2 separate regions of the Homo sapiens genome follow, and region 1 is linked to region 2. Evidence: fine-mapped expression QTL. A gene starts in region 2. The other region holds a variant in brackets. All regions are shown on one strand. Distances are from middle to middle.

Region 1 (4,399 bases), 130 kb after region 2:
GCCTGTAATCCCAGCACTTTGGGAGGCCGAGGCGGTCAGATCACGAGGTCATGAGATCGAGATCAGCCTGACCAACATGGTGAAACCCCGTCTCTACTAAAAATACAAAAGTTGGCTGGGCGTGGTGGCACACACCTGTAAACCCAGCTACTCAGGAGGCTGAAGCAGGAGAATTGCTTGAACCTGGGTAACAGAGGTTGCAGTGAGCCGAGATTGTGCCACTGCACCCCAGCCTGGTGATGGAGCAAGACTCCATCTCAAAAAAAAAAAAAAAAAAAAAAAAAGAAGAAGAAGAAAGAGAGAGCTCTTCCTGCATGCACACACCAGGGAAAGGCCATGCAAAAACATAACTAGGAAGAAGACCCTCATCAAGAACCTAACTGTGGTGGCACCCTGATCTCCGGCTTCCAGCCTTCAGAACCATGAGAAATAAATGTTTGTTACTTTAGTCACGCAGTCTATTGTAATGTGTTGTAACAGCCAGATCTAAGACACCCTCCCATCCCTTACCTCCTACTGAATTATTCTTTGATACAATCTGAACCAACACTGGCAGAACATTTTTTTTTTTTTTGCCACTTCCTTTATAAATGGCCCATCTTGCCTTAACCGTGGGAGTACTTGGCACTTACTGTTCTCAGCTTTGGGATCTTGGCCTAACTTCCCTGTGACAGTTAATTTTAGATGTCAACTCGACTGGATTAAGGAATACCTAGAGAACTGTTGAAGCATTATTTCTGGATATGTCTGTGAGGGTGTTTCCAGAGGAGATAGGTGTGTGTGATTGTGAACTGAGTAGGGAAGATTCACCCTTAATGTGGGGAGGCACCATCCAATCAGCTAGGGGCCTGATAGAACAAAAAAGGCAGAGGAAATATGATTTTTCTCTCTTTTTGTCTCCTGGAGCTGAGACATCCTTCTCCTCCTACTCTTGGACATCACCAGAACCTGAGGCTCTCTGACCTTTGGACTTCAGTGCTTCTCCATACTCGGGTTCTTGGGTCTTTGGCCTCAAACTGAGTTACAGCATTGCTTGTTCCAGGGCATTCAGACTTGGACTGAGCCACGCTACCAGCATCGTGGATCTCCAGCTTGCAGAGGGCCTATTGTAGAACATTTCTGGCTCCATAATTGCATGAACGAATTCCCCCAATAAATCCCCTCTCACTGATCTATCTATCTATTCACCCATCCTATTGGTTCTTTCTTTCTTGAGAACTCTGGCTAATAACACTTCCAAATGGGAAGATCCATAATTTGATATCCTGTTAACATTTCACCAAATGCTCTGTTTCTATAATAATGTCTTGAAAAATGAAAGTTGAAGTTCCTCTGAAATTAACGTGAGTTCTAGCATTCTAAAAGTGAACAATTAGAAAGTATCCATCCATTGCCTAATCTTGCCATTTAGTTTTATTCAAGGAAGAGAACACACAAGACTATTTCCTGAGGGAGGCTTCCAGAGAAAGTTCTGCTGTCTGAGGGTTACTATTTAAGTAAACTCTTAAGTAACTATGAATTGTTTTAAAATCCAATGGATTAGAGAAAAGCTTGATGAAATCACTCTTCCAAATACATGGAATTTGCTACTGTTAGCTTAACAATTTTTCATTTTCAATACATATCTCATCCAAATAAAGGAGGTTTAAATCTTCAGTAGTTCTTTACCCAGATGCATGCTTTATGAGATCAGTGAATTGCTAAAGAAAACAGATGATTCATGTATAATATACATGTAGAACTTTATCCTGCTGAGAAATCAAAAGGGATTTACTACTTGAAAGACTCATAAGATGAAATTTTATTATAAAAGATGATGTATGTCATTACAAAACATGTTACATGAGGTCCCATACATGAGGGATGACTACAAAATTGCTTAAACCAAGTGTTCTTTATTAGAAGCTTAAAAAGCACAAAGTTGGCGCAGGCAATAAATAAAAATTAGAGGTTGGCTGTCACCCAGGAATACCTAGCTCAA[T/C]GGCTGTGTCTTGAAACAAGATGTAAATAAAAGTAATTGCTAAAGCAAAATTCTATATTAGACACAGCTTTCCCACTAGACTTATACTATAAAATTGGAGATTATTTCTTCAGGTGAGAGAAATATGTCTAAATTATGCTTATTAATAATACTTCTTAAGATATGCAGCTTGAGCTAAAGAAAGAAATCATTGGTCCCAATGATATGATGCAAAGTGAAATATATAATCTAAAATAAAATGAATATATTCAAAATTAGGCATAATCAGGCAAGACAGAAGTAATCACACAGTATAGAGTACTTTGATGGTAGCAGATTCAAAGGCTTTTTAATTTGTCCAAATTTCAAAACTTGACTTACTGTCTGTCTCATGTCCAATTTCCTTAAGAGTCAAGGACCAATAATGTTTATCTGATAAATAATTTTATGCTAAAATGTCAATGATTGATTACAGCTTTATATCATTTTTATTTTGCATGATACCTTTGTAGGGTTTATTTTTCAGTTCTTTAAGTCCCTTCTGTAAAGATTATCACTGAATAATAAAAAAATTTAGTCACTTACCATGGAAGCTGGAAAGGAAGATGTTTTAGGGAAATGGTCCTTGGAGTAGGATACAGAGTATGCTTTCTTTGGAACACCCACTCTACTTGTGAGACCTTGGGTGATAAGAGTGATTAGAGTATAGACTCTAGAGTCAGAATGCATAAGTTCAAGTCCTCACTCTCCTACTCACTAGCTGTGTAAATGCAAAAGCTATTTCTCTCTGTGTCTCTGTTAAGGTAAAAAAGTGCCTACCACATAGAGTTCTTGTGAATACACAGTAATGTGATCTAAATGGTACCTAACCCATTCTGAGCACTATCTGCAGTCACCATTAAAATAATAATAACTATTATTATTATCAAATGAGACAATAACATGTAAGGGGCTTTGAACAGATGAATGCATAGTGAGCACATAAAAAGCTTCTGAGCTCCTCCTTTGTATGTATGTTTATGTTTATATTTGTACACATAGCCTGGTTCCTATTTAAGCATGTTTAATGAAGAGTCAGGTTTCCTAAGGGTTATCATAATTTTTCTACTATTTTAATCATTTATTTATTTAAAAAATTTACAGAACACTCAGCATATGCCAGGCACTATGCTAGCTATTAAGAATACAAGGATATTTCTTATCAACAACAGGAAAAGGGGTAAAGAGAAAAAGAGTGTCACAGAATGACAAAAAAAATCCCATAAAAAAGTGAAAAGTAAAAACAGGAAATCAAATACTACGTGTTCTCACTTATAAGTGGGAACCAAAGATTGAGTATACAAGGACATAAAGATAGAAACCATAGAAACTGGAGACAGTCAGAGCAGGGAGAGTGGGAGAGGGATGTAGGCTGACAAACTAACTATTGGGTACTATGTTCACTACCTGGGTGACGGGGTCCATACCCCAAACCTCAGCATAACATAATATACCCATGTAGCAAACCTGTACATATACCCCTGAATCTAAAATTTTAAATAAAGAAAAAGAAAAGCAGTGAGTAATAAATGATCTGCAATAACCATTTCTGAGCAAAGCTGCCCCGAGAATGAAAAAGAATTTGAAAGCTCAGACAGTACAATAAATTTTATTTAAAACATTAAAATATGTCCACTATATAAAAATAGGAAAGACCTAGGTATATGTGTAAGCAGGAGAGAAGAAACTGGCTGAGAGAGAGTACAGATGCCCCAAAAGAAGGAGAATGATTAAAGAAGGAATTTGCTTCAGGAATTCAGGAGAAAACATTAAGAAGGGCCACACACACACACACACACACACACACACACAAAATGCCAGAGAGATATTGAGATAAGACTGGAAGAAACGCACAAGTTGGACCCAGCTTGAAAGATCTCACTCAGCTAAATGCTGAGTGAGTATATGCTACGAGTTAAGATTAAATTTCAAGTAGAGGAAAGGAATCTGAAATGGCCTTCTAGGGAAGCCTAGCTGAGAGAAAAGAGCGATGAACTGAGAGTCCGGGGCTCTCAGTTCTAACTTGAATTTAGCGGATGGCTCTTGATTAGCCATTTACATTCCTCAAATGTAAAATTCAAGTATTGAACTCTGAGTCCTCGATACCCTGCCAACTTCAGAATACTACACAAATGATGATTAGAAGATTGCCACAAAACAGCAACATTTTAGTTGAAGTTGATCAGTGTGAAGTGGCAATAAATAAACGAGGACCAAAAATAAAAGTGCTTATCAGCTAATTTGAAGTTCCTATATAAATTGCTTACGGATCTTTGATGAGTTCGTAAAACTCATTTGTCCAGCTGTTTCTGAGTGAGGCCAGAAATCCTTTATAAACTCCATTTATCCTGGTAGGGTGCTGACCGATGCTGCACTGATAGTAGATGAGCAGGCAGAGTG
Region 2 (4,399 bases):
TTCTTGGGGGGAAAATGGTGGTAAAGGGGTACAAAGTTTTAGTTAGACAGGATGAATAAGTTCTGGAGATTTATTGTACAGCATGATAACTACAGTTAATGTACTGTATACAGTTAACCCTTGAACAACACAGGTTTGAACTGTATGGGTCTACTTATATGCAATTTTTTTTTCAAACTCAGATGGAAAATACAGTGTTCTAGAGATGTAAAACCCATGTATAAGCAGGGCTGACTTTTGTGTCTGCACGTTCTGCAGGGTTGACTGTGGGACTTGAATATATGTAGATTTTGGTATACCTGAAAGGTCTAGGAATCAATCCCCTGAATATACTGAGGTACTCCAAAACTACAAAGAGTAGATGTTAAATACTCTCAGCTCCCAAAAATGATGAGTATGTGAGGTGATGGATATACTATTTAGCCTGATTTAATAATTTCACAATGTATACATAAGCAGAACATCACATTGTACGTGGTAAATAGATACTATTTTTGTCAAATATAACTTAATAAAGCTGGAGAAAAAAAATAAAATTCTCCACTTCAAAAAAGCCTTAAAGGGGCCGGGTGCAGTGGCTCACGCCTGTAATCCCAGCACTTTGGAAGGCTGAGGCAGGCGGATCACCTGAGGTCAGGAGTTCGAGACCAGCCTGGCCAAAATGGTGAAACCCCGTCTCTACTAAAACAACAACAACAACAACAAAAATACCTGGGCGTGGTGGTGGGCACCTGTAATCCCAGCTACTTGTGAGACTGAGGCGGGATAATCGCTTAAACCTGGGAGGCGGAGGCTGCATTGAGCCGAGATTGCGTCATTGCACTTCAGCCTGGGAGACAGAGCGAGATTCCATCTAAAAAATAAAAAATAAAAATAAATCTTGAAGAAAAAAAAAACAATCATTTGCTATGCCTCCAGTATCCAAATTAAGCTCATTTTGATATTTGATGTTCGATATATTTGTACTAAGAGTACCTAATGTATAAAAATCTTTCTAAGCAACTATCAACTTGGAATCATGATTGATGTGCTGTCTATACATATTTTTTCTAACATGAGAAAGTGAGAACGCAGTCCCCCACTAAATTATGCAGTCGAGTTTCCCACATTTGGGGAAATCACAGAAGTCAGCACATCTGGAGTGAAATAAACAAGCTTCGCCCTGATTACAGGTTTGGCATATTCATGTTTAACAAACGCACCGGAACTAATTAAAGCAAATTTGGACTCCTACTCTATTATTAAAATAACTAATTCCTAAACTCATACATTATTCTTTCTTTTAAAGATCACTGATGTTAATGTTCAGCTAATATTTTCTTTTAAAAAATTAATGAAATGCTTTGGAATGTTCTCCAGTTATACAAACAAAAACAGACACATTCTGGAGAATCAATAAAATATTTGAAGTATTTTTTAAGACTGTACAGCTGGAGCTCCAGGTTTAAATTAGAGCTCTGCCATTTACTAGATATGGTTGGTCAAGAAAATTAACCTTGTATTTCATCGTCCATAAAATGGGAATAAAATAATAAGATCTACACTAATAGATTTGATGAAAGAATTTAATGAGATAATCTATGCGAAGTTCTTAGTCTGGCACCTGGCACATGAATAAGTGCATCACATAATGATGTTAGCTATTATTATTGTGGTTGCATTATCTTTCCGTTCAAAAAAGTACAACTTTCAAAGCCTTGCTGTGTTGGCGACCTGTAGTTTAATAATCTATCGCTTCTCTTTCAATCTTAATTTCTAAAGACACAGTAACAAACCATTCCAAATGAAGCGTCTCCCCTTGCAATACTTAACCTTGAGTCAACAATTCTTGTAATTATTAAATATTCATTCACTAAAGTAATTGTTTTTTTTAAAAAATAGAGGTGATAGGACAATGGCCTAACTACAGATCGCAATTAAACTTTATTTCTCTAAGGCAGGCAGGGTGAATTCTTTGCTCCGAACCTCCCGGACTCCTCTCCCTCTCCGACTTTGTATAACAGAGGGAGCTCCGAGCCCTCTCTGGCGCGCGAGGTATTTCGTCTGTCCCCGGGGGTGCCAGGTGAGCCCCAGCGGATCCGGGAGGGTAAGCTGGGACTCCTCGCGAGCAGTAGCTGCAGGGTACCAAGCTTCGCCCTCTGCGTCCCCGCGCCTTCGCGGTCTCCCGCCAGTGCAGGTCCGGGGCCCCCAGGCGAGCGGACAAGGTTGGCCTAATCTGCCAAACTTCTGGGGCATTTACCGTGCTCTGGCCGCCCTCCCGATTCTTCCCTCCGCGCCCTTGCCTGCTTCTCGCCTACCCCGGGCTCCGGAAGGGAAGGAGGCGTGTCCGGAGCAGGCGGGCGGGAACTGTATAAAAGCGCCGGCGGCTCAGCAGCCGGGCTTCGCTCGCCGCCTCGCGCCGAGACTAGAAGCGCTGCGGGAAGCAGGGACAGTGGAGAGGGCGCTGCGCTCGGGCTACCCAATGCGTGGACTATCTGCCGCCGCTGTTCGTGCAATATGCTGGAGCTCCAGAACAGCTAAACGGAGTCGCCACACCACTGTTTGTGCTGGATCGCAGCGCTGCCTTTCCTTATGAAGAAGACACAAGTGAGTAGGGCGCGCCCGGGAGCTCCCAGGCTCTCCAGGAAAAATCGCGCCCGGTGCCCCGGGGAAGCCGGCGCTCCCTGGGACTTGCAGCTGGGGCGTGCAGGGCTGTGCCTGCCGGGTGAGACAAGAGGATGCGGGGGAGGCCGGCGTGGTGTGTGATCCCGAGCCGAGCCGGGTGAGCCAGGGAGAAAAGGAGTGGGAGTGCTGAGAGGGAGCCAGTGTCAAGTTTGGAGCCTCAGCAGTTAAGTTTTGAGCTGTCAGTCGGAAACCGTAATTCCCGTCTGGTGGAAAGATTGGCTTTTGGGCCATGGAATGTTAAGTTATCACGGGAAGGCATGTCTTTGCATAGGAGACGGTTTTCCCGTGGATTCCAGGAGATTATGAAACAGCACCCCACGCGCCACCCTCACTAGCTCTCTCACTCAGATTTATTTGTGTAGCCCCGAGGTGGGCGCCGGGCACCAGGAGCGGCGCGAACGCGGGTGCAGCCGCGGGAGCGAAGCCAACGCGGAACTCCTAAGCGGCAGCTCTCGGCGGGGCGGGAACCTGCCCGCCTGCCCGGGAAACTTGGCTCTCGGCGGTGTCTGCCTAGTTTGCAGCTCTGTGTGGGCTCTAAAGAGCTCTAGTACCTCCACAATGCACGCACCTTTTTCCATTTCAAAAGGGATAAAGGCTTTTTATAAAATAGGCACCTCTGAATGATAGTGATTGAGATAATTCCCAGTGCTGCTAAATTCTGCATTATACATAAAGCACTGTGGGTAAAGCGCTGCCTGGGGGGACAATTAGATTTTTTTTTCCCTTGAAGAAAATACCTGGTTCTTCGTTTAGAAAGGGCCGCCACGGTGCCCCTATCCACAGTTCTCTTCACCATTGTTGATTGTTACCTCCTCTCACTTTCCCCCTTAGAAATTGTTATGTGTTATCTGCCGCGGTTGGCTAAGGGTTGCCCTTTCACCCCCCAGAGGTTCTGTTGGAGATTGCAGTTCCTGAAATGTGTGGAAGGGGTGGAAGTGGTGGGGAAAAAGGAAACCGGGGTGTTTGTACACATCGTTGGTGTAGAATGAAGGCATCAATGTGCTCAAAATGCTTTATCAAATGACCTGCTTAGCATCATATTTTAAACAGATATCTAGGCCTGCAAAAAGTTGCAAGACTCTAGCCCCTTGTACCGGTGTGGTAAAAGGCAGGGGAAAGGGACATTGCCTGGCTAAAAGAGGCTTGCATAGTCTCTAGAGCACTCTCTAAGAGAAAAGACGCGATGTGCCTCTCCCCTCTCTTACAAGCAGGTTAGCTTTCAGGCAAGGCATTGAGCACCGCACCTGGAATCACCACAGCGTGCTGTCGAAATGCAAATGTTAAAGATTCTTGCAACAAAAGAAAAGTTTTATTGTAATCTCTTGATTTAGACAAGCTTTCTGCGAAATTATAAGAAGGGTAGAGACCTATTCCTTCTTATAGTAGCATCTGCTCCCATGGATGGTGGTGAGATCTGGGGGAAGAAGCTGCTACCTTCTAGTTCAGGAAAAGAGCCTAAACCTTCCTATTTAAACAAGAACACAGGAGACAGATAAGGTTAATGTCCAACACTCCAAAGCCAGGGGATGTACTATCAAGTCACTTTGAGAGGCAGTAGGATTGATTATCCTTGCACCCTTGCTTTGCAAAACAAATGTGAGCTCTGTAATCTCCTTTCTCGCTTTGATTAAATGGCTGTGTAAATCGGATTACATGGAATAATTCCATTGAAAACTAGAAAGAGGTCAATCTAGTCTGAAACATTGTGACTGTGGCATTAGTGACTCAGTGCTGC

Alleles and levels. Alleles are on the strand shown, and positions count from the first base shown. SD is a standard deviation of normalised expression in the study named.
In carriers of allele T in region 1, the expression in monocytes after R848 of the gene that starts at base 2,379 in region 2 tends to be lower than with C alone (moderate effect, 0.57 SD a copy in Quach 2016).

The links. PIP is the estimated chance that this variant, and not a neighbour inherited with it, causes the effect. A credible set is the group of variants that fine-mapping cannot tell apart.
Region 1: its variant is the best candidate, but not a certain one, in a credible set for the expression of KITLG in monocytes after R848 (Quach 2016, PIP 0.84).

What each region holds. Positions count from the first base shown.
Region 1 is chr12:88,450,807-88,455,205 of GRCh38, reverse strand. No RefSeq gene overlaps it. Among named protein-coding and RNA genes, the nearest start is that of KITLG, 130 kb to the left of the region's middle. The variant T/C (reference allele first, on the strand shown) is at 1,982.
Region 2 is chr12:88,578,451-88,582,849 of GRCh38, reverse strand. KITLG (KIT ligand) reads left to right here and starts at 2,379. Exons shown (of 10, transcript NM_000899.5): 1 at 2,379-2,586. The coding sequence starts at 2,572. It overlaps LOC105369885 (a long non-coding RNA gene), which reads right to left and starts at 2,314. Exons shown (of 4, transcript NR_188177.1): 1 at 2,240-2,314; 2 at 712-853. It also overlaps the pseudogene RNU1-117P.